Homo sapiens: one gene and its partner. The protein of the gene in region 1 purifies or fractionates together with the protein of each later gene. This does not show direct contact. Each region holds a gene or a part of one and is shown on either strand. Other genes may lie near its edges.

What was found. The genes of interacting proteins can lie anywhere in the genome.
Region 2: the proteins of SPINK2 (region 1) and PMPCA purify together in Homo sapiens (affinity purification with mass spectrometry; 2 studies listed by BioGRID and IntAct, with this or other methods). This does not show direct contact.

The regions. Positions count from the first base shown.
Region 1 is NC_000004.12:56,818,677-56,825,906, reverse strand, and holds the start of SPINK2 (serine protease inhibitor Kazal-type 2 isoform 1 precursor), read left to right. Parts: upstream 1-4,205; 5' UTR 4,206-4,244; coding exon 4,245-4,449; exon of another isoform or gene 4,450-4,587; intron 4,588-5,327; coding exon 5,328-5,371; intron 5,372-7,230. UniProt on the Homo sapiens protein: As a strong inhibitor of acrosin, it is required for normal spermiogenesis. It probably hinders premature activation of proacrosin and other proteases, thus preventing the cascade of events leading to spermiogenesis defects.
Region 2 is NC_000009.12:136,420,624-136,424,261, reverse strand, and holds the end of PMPCA (mitochondrial-processing peptidase subunit alpha isoform 1 precursor), read right to left. Parts: intron 2,431-3,638; coding exon 2,286-2,430; coding exon of another isoform or gene 2,002-2,285; exon of another isoform or gene 1,178-2,001; intron 1,168-1,177; coding exon 998-1,167; 3' UTR 501-997; downstream 1-500. UniProt on the Homo sapiens protein: Substrate recognition and binding subunit of the essential mitochondrial processing protease (MPP), which cleaves the mitochondrial sequence off newly imported precursors proteins.

The DNA.
Region 1 (7,230 bases):
ACTGTATTAGTCCATTTTCATGCTGCTGATAAAGACATACATGAGACTGGGAAGAAAAAAGGGTTTAATTGGACTTACAGTTCCACATGGCTGGGGAGGCCTCACAATCATGGTGGGAGGTGAAAGGCCCTTCTTACATGGCAGGAGCAAGAGAAAAAATGAGGAGGAAGCAAAAATGGAAACTCCTGATAAACCCATCAGATCTCCTGGACTTATTCACTATCATGAGAATGGCATGGGAAAGACTGGCCCCCATGATTCAATTATCCCCCTGGGTCCCTCCCGCAACACTTGGGAAATCCGGGAGATAGAATTCAAGTTGAGATTTAAGTGGGGACACAGCCAAACCATATCACCTACCTCTACAAAAAATACAAGAATATTAGCTGGGTGTGGTGGCGGATGCTTGTATTCCTAGCTACTTGTGGGGCTGAGGTGGGAGGATCGCTTGAGCCCAGGAGGTTGAGGCTGCAGTGAGCTGAGATTGCGCCACTGTACTCCAGCCTGGGTGACACAGCAAGATCTTCTCTCAAAAAAAAAAAAAAAAAGAATACAGTTATGCCCATTCATTGAGTTATAGTCTATGTCTCCTTTTGCACTGCAATGGCAGAGTTTAGTTGTGACAAGAAGTCAATGGTATTTACTATCTGGCCCTTTACAGAAAATGTTTTTTGACCCTTGTTCTTGGCTCACAAATGCTGAGACAACATGTGAAAAGCACCATGATAGAAAATATTTCTAAGGTATAATTATCAACATTTTTTTTTTTTTTTTGAGACGGAGTCTCGCTCTGTCACCCAGGCTGAAATGCAGTGGTGTGATCATGGCTCACTGCAGCCTCCACCTCCCAGGCTCAGGTGATCCTCCCACCTCAGCCTCCTAAGTAGCTGGGACTACAGGTGCGCGCCACCACACCAGGCTAATTTTTGTATTTTTTTAGAGACAGGGTTTTGTCATGTTGCCCAGGTTGGTCTCCAACTCCTGGGCTCAAACAATCTGCCCGCCTCTGCCTCCCAAAGTGCTGGGATTACAGGCATGAGCCACCCTGCCAGTCAGTGTCAACTCTTTGAAACAAAATAACCTAAAGGCAGCTGTATCCACACACATAAATTTATAAAAAATCTATCTTGAGGGGTAAATGGCTTTTCTTTTGAAGCTGAAATTCCTACTCACACACCTCTGAGCATTGCCCCTGAGTCTGGGTCAGATTTGTGTTCCCAGAGCATCAAAGGTGTTTGTAAGCAAGTGCACATGTCATTTGGTAACAGACATCCAGCACAGTTGAGAAAAGCTTTATATATAAATTATATTTTATCAATCCTTGATAAGAATCTTCAGCAAAATGACCCATGACCATTTCATGACTGTTATTCAAAGAACTGAATGTGATGTGACTTAGAGAAGTACTAACACTCATTTCAAATTTACCCCTTGGCCTCAGACAGGATTCCAGCCAGAACTCAGCCATGTGTGGTGCCAAGTGGAGTTAAAAACTGCACAGTGTCTTCTTGTTCCAGCCTTTGAGGTTGCTAAGGTCAAGGGTGGGCATGGGAACATGCCAGTCATAAGATGATTCTCCATCAGCTCTACAACCCCCTTCTACACTCTGCTATGTGGTGCCAGGTCTCAGCAGACCTCATTTCTGCTTTTTCAGCTGGCTTCCAGAAGGTTATGCCCATAGGGTCTGTCAGGGGGACACCGGAAGGCAGGAGGAGGGAGAAGGGACTGGCTCCTGCCTGCTGGCTGTTTCTTTCAGCAGTGCCACAGCAATGACTCTTCATCACTCTGATAGAATCAGCTGGCTCCAGTCTCCAGCATTTTTTTTTTTTTTTTTGAGACAGAGTTTCACTCTGTTGCCCAGGCTGGAGTGCAGTGGTGTGCTTCGCTCACCACAACCTCCACCTCCTAGGTTCAAGAGATTCTCATGAACCTGGGATTACAGGAGTATGGCACCATGTCCAGCTAAGTTTTATATTTTTTAGTAGAGACAAGGTTTCACCATGTTGGCCAGGCTGGTCTCGAACTCCCGACCTCAAGTGACCCACCCACCTCAACCTCCCAAAGTGCTGGGATTACAGGTGTGAGCCACTGCACCTGGCTCCAGTCTTCAGCTTTTCCACACACTCTTAGAGCCACCTGCATATCCAAGCAACACCCCCTTCCCATGGGTCTGAGTCCCAGCTTTCCAGGACCTCTCCTCCAAATTTCTAGTTCTGAGAATCCCAACCTAATCCGTTTGTTCCCCTAGATCGAGGCATGATGCCTACTTCCTAAAGGCTTTATCTCTGTGTTACCTCGTTTTCCCTTTCTGCTTTTTTCAGTTATCCCTACTGGATTAGCCAATTCCTTATACTAAATTATCTCTGGTGAAATACCTAGTAAACCTTGTGTTTTCCAGACTGGACCCTTACTGATAAGGCAACATGTCACAGAATCATTTGACACACAGGCATAAGAAGCAGAAAAAAAAAAAAGTGGATCTGCTAATGCACTTTTTTTTTTTTTTGACAGAGTCTTACTCTGTCGCCCAGGCTGGAGTGCAGTGGCACCATCTCGGCTCACTGCAACCTCTGCCTCTTGGGTTTAAGCAATTCTCATGCCTCAGCCTCCCAGGTAGCTGGGACTACAGGTGCGCACCACCATGCACAGCTAATTTTTGTATTTTTAGTAGAGATGGGGTCTTGCCATGTTGGCCAGGCTGGTCTCAAACTCCTGGCCTCAAGTGATCTACTTGCCTCAGCCTCGCAAAGTGCTGGGATTACGGGCATGAACCACCGTGCCTGGCCAAATTTTTTTGACATGGTCTCATTTTGCCACTGAGGCTGGAGCGCAGTAGCTCAATCTCAGCTCAATGGCCACACCTGGCTAATTTTTGTACTTTTTTTAGAGACGGGGTTTTGCCCTGTTGCCCAGGCTCCTCTCAAACTCTTGAGCTCAAGTGATCCACCAGGCTCAGCCTCCCAAAGTGCTGGGATTAGAGGCGTGAGCCACCACGCCTGGCCTTAATGCACTAACTTGCTCAGCCTCTTTGGCAAAAATTATTTCTCACAGAAGTAATGAGTAGAACAGTAGTTACTAGAGGCTGGGAAGGATAGGGGGATAGGGAGAGGTTGGTTAAAGTATACAAAATTACAGCTAGGTAGAAAGGATAAGTGCTAGTGTTTCATAGCATTGTAGGGTGCCGACAATTAACAATAATATATTATAAAGGTCGAGCACGGTGGCTCAAGCCTGTAATCCCAGCACTTTGGGAGGCCAAGGTGGGCGGATTGCTTGAGCCCAGGAGTTTGAGAGTAGCCTGGGCAACATGGTGAGAACCCCTCTCTACAAAAAATGCAAAAATTAGCTTGGCATGGTGGCATATATCTGTGGTCCCAGCTACTTGGGAGGGAGGCTGAGGTGGGAGGATCACTGGAACCTGGGAGGTGGAGGTTGCAGTGAGCTGAGATCGTGCCACTGCACTCCAGCCTGGGTAAAAGAGCGAGACCCTGTCTGAAATTTAAATAATAATAATAATTTATTATGTATTTTCAAGTAGCTAGATGAGAGGATTTTGAATGTTCTCAACACAAAGTAATGATAAATGTTTGAGGTGATGAATATGCTAATTATCCTATTTTGATCACTACACATTGTATGTATCCAAATATCACTATGTACCCCCATAAATATGTACAATCATTATGTGTCAACTCAAATAGTTAAAAAATATATTAAAAGAGGGAAAGGCAGAACGCTTCCTGAGAGCAAGGACCTCCTTTGTCGAGGTCAGGGCTGTGTCTTCAGCAACGAAACACTATCTGGGACTTAGTACATGCTTAAGAAATAGGTGTTGATTGACAGAGCTCCCAAGAGCTCCACAAGGGTCCCCCTAGGACTGTCACAGGTTCTTGTATGTCGGAGGGAGAGGTCTTCCCCTTCGTCTCCTTGGGGGGAGGGGAAGGTGTTGGGGAACAACTGCCCCTTCCTCTATCTCCCTCGCCCCTCCTTCCCCATGGCCCCCTCCCCCGTCCTTCTACCTTTCTCCTTCCCAGCCCTTTCCGGTTCTCCCCCGACCCTTCACGGCTCCTCTTCCCGCCGCTCCTCTTCCCGCCGCCCCTCTTCCCTCGCCACCTACCGCTGCTTTTCCTCCCATTCTCGCCCCGCCCCTTCCCCCGCCCTCCCCGCGCCCCGTCGCACGAGCGCTCCCTGCGAGTGGCGCAGGTAACAGACCGCAGGGGCAAGACAGCCGGCGCGGGAGGAGGATGGCGCTGTCGGTGCTGCGCTTGGCGCTGCTGCTCCTGGCAGTTACCTTCGCAGGTAGCGCTCGGAGCGGTCCTGGCGAGCGGGGACCTCCGGAGAAAAGCGGGTTTGGGAGTCAGACCGGCGGCGGACCCTGCCCTGCTCCGGGCGGCCTCGGCGACGGTACCCGCGCGCCCGTTACTGGCGGTTCCCCAGAGGACCTGCCAGGTGGAGGAACGCGAACTGGGGGTTGTGGGGGTGGCTTTGTGGAGTCAGCCACCCTCTTTAGTTCTTGCTTGGGCTTCGCTCCCAGCTCTAAGGACACCTGCCATCTAGAGCGCTTTCTCTGTTAAAGTAGATTTTCAGGTGCCCAAGATGAGGAGTTGAGTTTTTATGTATGGTCCCAAGGGAGGAGATGTGCAGGAATGAGGAATTGTGGATGCTTACGAGAAAGGGGCTTTAGTCCAACCACACTGGACACCTCTCTTAAAATGGAGTTAAAATGCTCACATCTTATATTAAATTTTGTATTTGTTACCCCGAGTTGTAAAGGAAAATAACATCATGAACTATTAATTAAGGGTTACTTCCTTGGCCAGGTGTAGTGGCTTGGGCCGGTAGTCCCAGTTACTCCGGAGGTTGAGGCGGGAGGCTCGCTTGAGACCAGGAATTGAAGCTGCAGTGCGCTAGCGCGACTTTTATTCCATAGCTTCAAAGTCCTTTCTCAACCAACCCTAATGGGAACAGAACCAAATGTTATTTCTATGTGCTTTTGGGGAGAGGTGCCATAAAAAACTGAATATCCTTTCTGGGGGAAGTGGGATGGGGACAGTTTAAAGAAGGTAGGCATTAGAGGGGAAAATAGAAGATGTGGCCTGGATAAATCCCAAACTGGATTTTAAAACATCCTTATGAAGCTGGATGTGGTGGCTAATGCCTCAAATTCCAGCACTTTGGGAGGCCTAGGCAGGAAGATCGCTTAAGCCCGGGAGGTCAAGACCAGCCTGGGCAACATAGCAAGACTTCATTTAAAAAAAAAAAAAACTTCATGAACAATACCTTACCTTGATCCTATACTGTAAAATGTCTATGCTTTCTTCTTACAGCCTCTCTGATCCCTCAATTTGGTCTGTTTTCAAAATATAGAACGGTAAGTAGCAAACCACTTCTACTGTTTCTACTAATACAGTGAAGCCCAAAACCGTTTGGGAGGGAGGCTGGCTTTCAGGTCTGACCTGCCACTTTTGAAACCATTGAGGACTGCGTTTAAAACCAGGTTGTCAGGCAGGCCTTTTGATTCAGATAAAAGTGTAAGTTTTAGTTGAAAACAGCTCAGTCTTTGTGTTAATATTTCCTTTAAAGATTCAAAAGGTCCTTAGAAAAAGTTATGCCTTGTACTAGATATTTTATGTACTTTATCAAATTAAATTCTGAGGATGTAAATGGAGACCAACCAAATGAGAACAAGCAAAGGCTATGTTTTTCAGGGCTTGTTATAGCAAGAGAGTCAGCCACTGTCACTTGCATTTGAGTAGGGACTCGAGTCAAAGAGAGGAGTGGGAAAACTATAGTGGAAAAAAGGAATGGCTTCAGGTATGGCCTGATTGGAGGCTGTTGGCACAGGGAAGCTGTAGGTGAGCTAACTAGAAGCACAACATTCTATGGTATGGGTTAGGGGTGTGTATTTGGTTTTCTCTGGTTGTCCTAAGTTGGAATCAAGGACAGAAATTACGGAAGCTGTCAGTTAGTAATCAAATCCTAACCATTTTGCAGCTGGGCGCAGTGACTCACGCCTGTAATCCCAGTGCTTTGGGAGGCCGAGGTGGGCAGATCACGAGGTCAGGAAATCAAGACCATGCTGGCTAACATGGTGAAACCCCGTCTGTACTAAAAATACAAAAAATTAGCCAGGCATCATGGCACGTGCCTGTAATCCCACCTACTGGGAAGGCTGAGGCAGGAGAATCACTTGAACCTGGGAGGCAAAGGTTGCAGTGAGCTGAGTTCATGCCACTGCACTCCAGCCCAGACAACAGAGTGAGACTTCATCTCAAAAAAAAAAAAAAAGAAAGAAAAAAAAGTCCTAGCCATTTTGGGCTGATTGTTAAAGGGGTTATTGTTTTGCTTCCTGGACTGTCACTAGAGATAGCAGTCTGATTTCCTTCAAGTCTGGCTTATAGCCGGCTGGCCTCCTGGCCTGGTTATTCTAAATAATGGTTTGGGTTCCTGGACAGGATGCTGCAGGTTGTGGGTCAGAGTTCTGTTTTATATAAGGACTAGTCATTGTCTGTATATTTGGTCTCTCAATTCTCACAATGATGTTGTAAGATAGACATTATTTGACATATGAGGATATTGACTTCAGCAGGTTAACTTTGAGCATTCAGCTCAGAGTAGGCTTCTTCCAGGAAGCCTTCCCACGCGATTCCCTTCCTCTAGAGATGTAGATATGTATACACACACACTTTCTCTGTGCTTACCTATACTGCATCATCATCACCATCATAATAATAAATACTTAGATACCTACATGCCACACCAGTGTTCTAAATGCTTCATATATAATAACTAATTTCATCTTTCACAGTACTGTGAGGTAGGGATCATTATTTCATTATTATCCCCTTGGCCAAGGTCACATGGAAGTGGTGGAGCTATGCTTCTCATCCAGGCAGTCTGACTCCAGATCCAGTGCTTTTCTCTACCCTGTCACAACATTAGGTTGTAATTGCCTGTTTGCCTACGTCCTCCAGGAAACTGTATGCATGTTGTCAGGTATAATGTCTTATTTGCTATTTGTTGCTCAGTCTTCAGCATCTCACAGATGCCCAATAACACTTTTAGTCAGTGATTCAGTTTGCTTGGGTTTGATTTTCTTTTAGAAAATGGGAGTTATGGTACCTTCGTTTCAAGGCTGGGATTAGGGTAAAGTGAGTGAGTTCCTACATGTAGAATTTAAGAAGGCACTCACGCTCAGGAGGCAAGGCAAGTGCTGCAGGACCTGCTGTC
Region 2 (3,638 bases), on another chromosome or scaffold:
CACGCTCAGCTCATTTTGTATTTTCGATAGAGACGGGGTTTCTCCATGTTGGTCCGGCTGGTCTCAAACTCCCGACCTCAGGTGATCCGCCCGCCTCGGCCTCCCAGCGTGCTGGGATTAGAGGCGTGAGCCACCGCGCCCGGCCTCTTGTACAAGTTTTTACACCACATGAAAGGCTACCCCGTAGCCGCTATTCCCTAAGCCATGCGGCCTTTCGGATCTCTGGAAACACCCACATCTGCGGCCGTTCCTCGGCTTGGCGGTGCTCCCCACCTCTAAGGCACCTGCAGGCTTCGCTGCCGGTCACCATTACCCCCCGTCACCCCACCCCATGCATGCTGCGACACCCCTGACATCAGCACGTCGCACGAGAACAGGCTTCAAGACACGGGGTCAAACCGGACGACTGACAGGGAGGAAGGCCTCCATGTTAGAAAAGCTGCCAATTCAGACAGCCCTTAAGAACCGCCCCTCCCCAGGCGAGAAGGAAAACACCGTGCTAAGAAAGATGCCAGCTCTTTATTACCAGGGAAGCTGTGTGCACGCGCGTGGAGCGCGCTCCTTGGAGCTGACCGGGCCCTTACCTTCTCCTGCTTGTCAGAGGTGAGTCCTGGTACCCAGCACGGTGGCCTCCGGGAGGCTTTGATAGGTCAGCCTTTGCTGCCTCCCAGCTCAGGGCTCCTCCAAGGAACCTGCGGGGCCCCATGTGCCCACAGCCCGAGGAGGGAAGCACCGACCGCCCTCCTCGTGGCACGCTGCACTCCAGCGCTGGGCACTTCACCTGCTTCCTGGCTTGCGGTGGTCAGGCTCGATACTGACTCCACTGATCGGCACATTGAGTTCCAAAAGAATGCAAACCGCGTGGGTGCTGTGGCGACATTGTTTGCACCGTTTATACAACCAGACAGCTTTTTAGACTAAATTCGTGTCCAAACTAACACGCACGGGAACGGGCTCCAGCTGCAGCTCCCTGGGTCTGTCAGGCCGGGGAGCGGTTCTACCGGAAGAGCCGGTACGTCCTGGGCAGGCGCCCGTCCTTACTCGACAGGGCGGTCTGGATGTGCTCATACGTGGGCAGGTCAGTCAGGTCACCCAGGGCGGCCACTGCCGGCTTCCCTCGGAGCATCTTAGAAGCGACTCTCTTCACATCTTCCGGCTTCACGTTGCCTAGTGCAGAGGGCAAACGCGTGTCACACGAGCGCGCCACGGCCCCCACGCTGAGGCTGCATCAGTAAACACACGGAGGGGGCGGCTGGTCTGTACCACTCACTCACGCTGTGCTGCTGATGGGGGCACCTGGGCCCAAAGGCAGCCACTGGGTGTAGCCAAGGGTGAGTCCACAAGTGACAGACGTTGAGTTCTCAGTAAATGGGGACATGGCAATGACTTAAAAATATAGGACAAAGCCACCCAAGAAGAGTTACACTTACAGAAGAGCGAGCTCCGTGTCTGATGAACTCACTTTAGGACGGCCTGCAGAAAAAACCCCCAGCCCCCGAGGGCCGCATGGACAGAAGGGTGGGGTGAGAGAAGGCCAAAGGGCTGCACCCAGGAACCCCAGGACAGGAGTGATAGGGTCCAGGTGGGTCTGTTTTCTACAGAAAACGAGGCCCGAGAGAGGCTGGACACTCGCTTGAGGATTTAAGCGGGGGCTCCTGAGGGAAGGACGAGGGCCCACACGGGACAGGGCAAGTGCCCGGGACTCCAGGCCTGGAAAGGAGATGCCCACAGGTGACACCATAAGCCCGAGCCACCCCAACGTAATAGGCAGCCTTGCCAGGTTTTAAGCCTGTCCCCCAGAAGAGTCCGATGCACATACAACTTGGCAGTTTCAGGAAATTCAGACCTCCTAAGGTCACTCATGGGGGCCCCGGAAACCTGGGGCTGAGACTCCTGCCCGAGAGCCAGCAACGGTACAGCGGCATTCCGAGCCACTGCTACTCCACGTACAATGTAGCAGTCCTCTACTGAGCCCTTCTCGCCTACTAACTTGAGTGCTCTTTAACAACTCTGGGCAGTAGTGACAGCCCCTCCCAGGGGTGCAGAGGGTGGGGTCACCTGCCAAGGAGGCAGCAGGTGCATGGTGGGGCCGGGAAGTGAGACCAGGTCTGCGACCCCACGACCCTGCCCTTGGCCGCCCCTGCTGAGGACAACTGGTGAAGGCCCCAGATTCTGGGTGTGATGGACATACCACAGGCCCACCACGGCCTGCGGGAGGGCGAGACGGCCTCCTCTGAGCCTGGCCGAGGCCTGCGGCAGCCCCTCACTACCCCTGCGGTACTCACGGATGAGCGTGCACAGCTCGTGCGGCAGCTTTCTGGAGCGAGTGGCCAGCACCTGCCTCCCCACATCCTCGAAGATCACAGGCCTGGATTCCAGGTTCATCATGAGCATTGATGTCAGCTGCGTCTTGGCTCGTTCCAGCTCCACCTGGGGCCAGGGTCCAGTCAGGTGAGCACACACCCGCCCCGTGCCACCTTCCACCCCCCACTCGAGCAATGGCAAAACGCCATCTCTGTGCCCAAAGCTGAACATAAGAAAGGGAAGGGCAGCCGGGCGCAGTGGCTCCCGCCTGTAATCCCAGCTCTTTGGGAGGCTGAGGCAGGCGGATCACGAGGTCAGGAGATTGAGACCATCCTGGCTAACAGAGTGAAACCCCTTCTCTACTAAAAATACAAAAAGAAATTAGCTGGGCGTGGTGGCGGGCGCCTGTAGTCCCAGCTGCTCAGGAAGCTGAGGCGGGAGAATGGCATGAACCCGGGAGGCGGAGCTTGCAGTGAGCCCAGATCGCACCACTGCACTCCAGCCTGGGCGACAGAGCAAGACTCTGTCTCAAAAAAAAAAAAAAAAAAAAAAACGGGAACCCAGGCCCAAGTCACAGGCAACCCTGCTGGTCTCCCCTTCAGGTTTTTTAGGGAAGGGCTGTGCTACGTGTTACCCGGCTTCTACCACACTTGAAATACAGGAGCAATGTGCCTCCCTTGAGTTCTTCATTGTCTGTGTGACATGCAGCGGGAGAAGGTAAAATAGTTAACTCCCAAATGCCAGGGCCCCAAAGTGGCCACACGGCAAAATCGGGGAAAACAAATGAAACACAGGTTCTGGGGCTTCCCCAGACGCCTCCGGCGCAGGGCCCAGGCAGCTGGTTTTAGCAAAGTCCCTGGGAGGTTCTGAGGGAGGCAGTGCGGGTCCTAGGCTGCCTTCAGACTGTCTCAGGGCACAGGCAGGGGTGCTGTGAGAAGGACATGCAGATCTAGGAGCCAGCATACTGAAAAACAAACACCAAAAACTGATGGGCCGCAGAGATGCTACACTTTTTTTTTTTTTTCTTAAATAGACACAGGGTCTTGCTATGTTGCCCAGGTCAGTCTTGAACTCCTGGGCTCAAGTGATCCTCCCACCTTGGTCTCCCAAAGTGCTGGGAAAACAGGCATAAGCCACCGGACCTGGCCTCTATACCATTTCTTTTAAGTAAAACAATTCTTAGGTCTTTTTGCAACTTTAGGCAAATACCTAAATACTTCATATTTATTTCAAGTTGACTTCACGTTAGTGGAGGACTGTTTTTCTAGCAGTGCACTAGTGGAACTGAAGCGTATTAATTTAACCACAACTTTATTTCTTGAATGCTTTTTTTC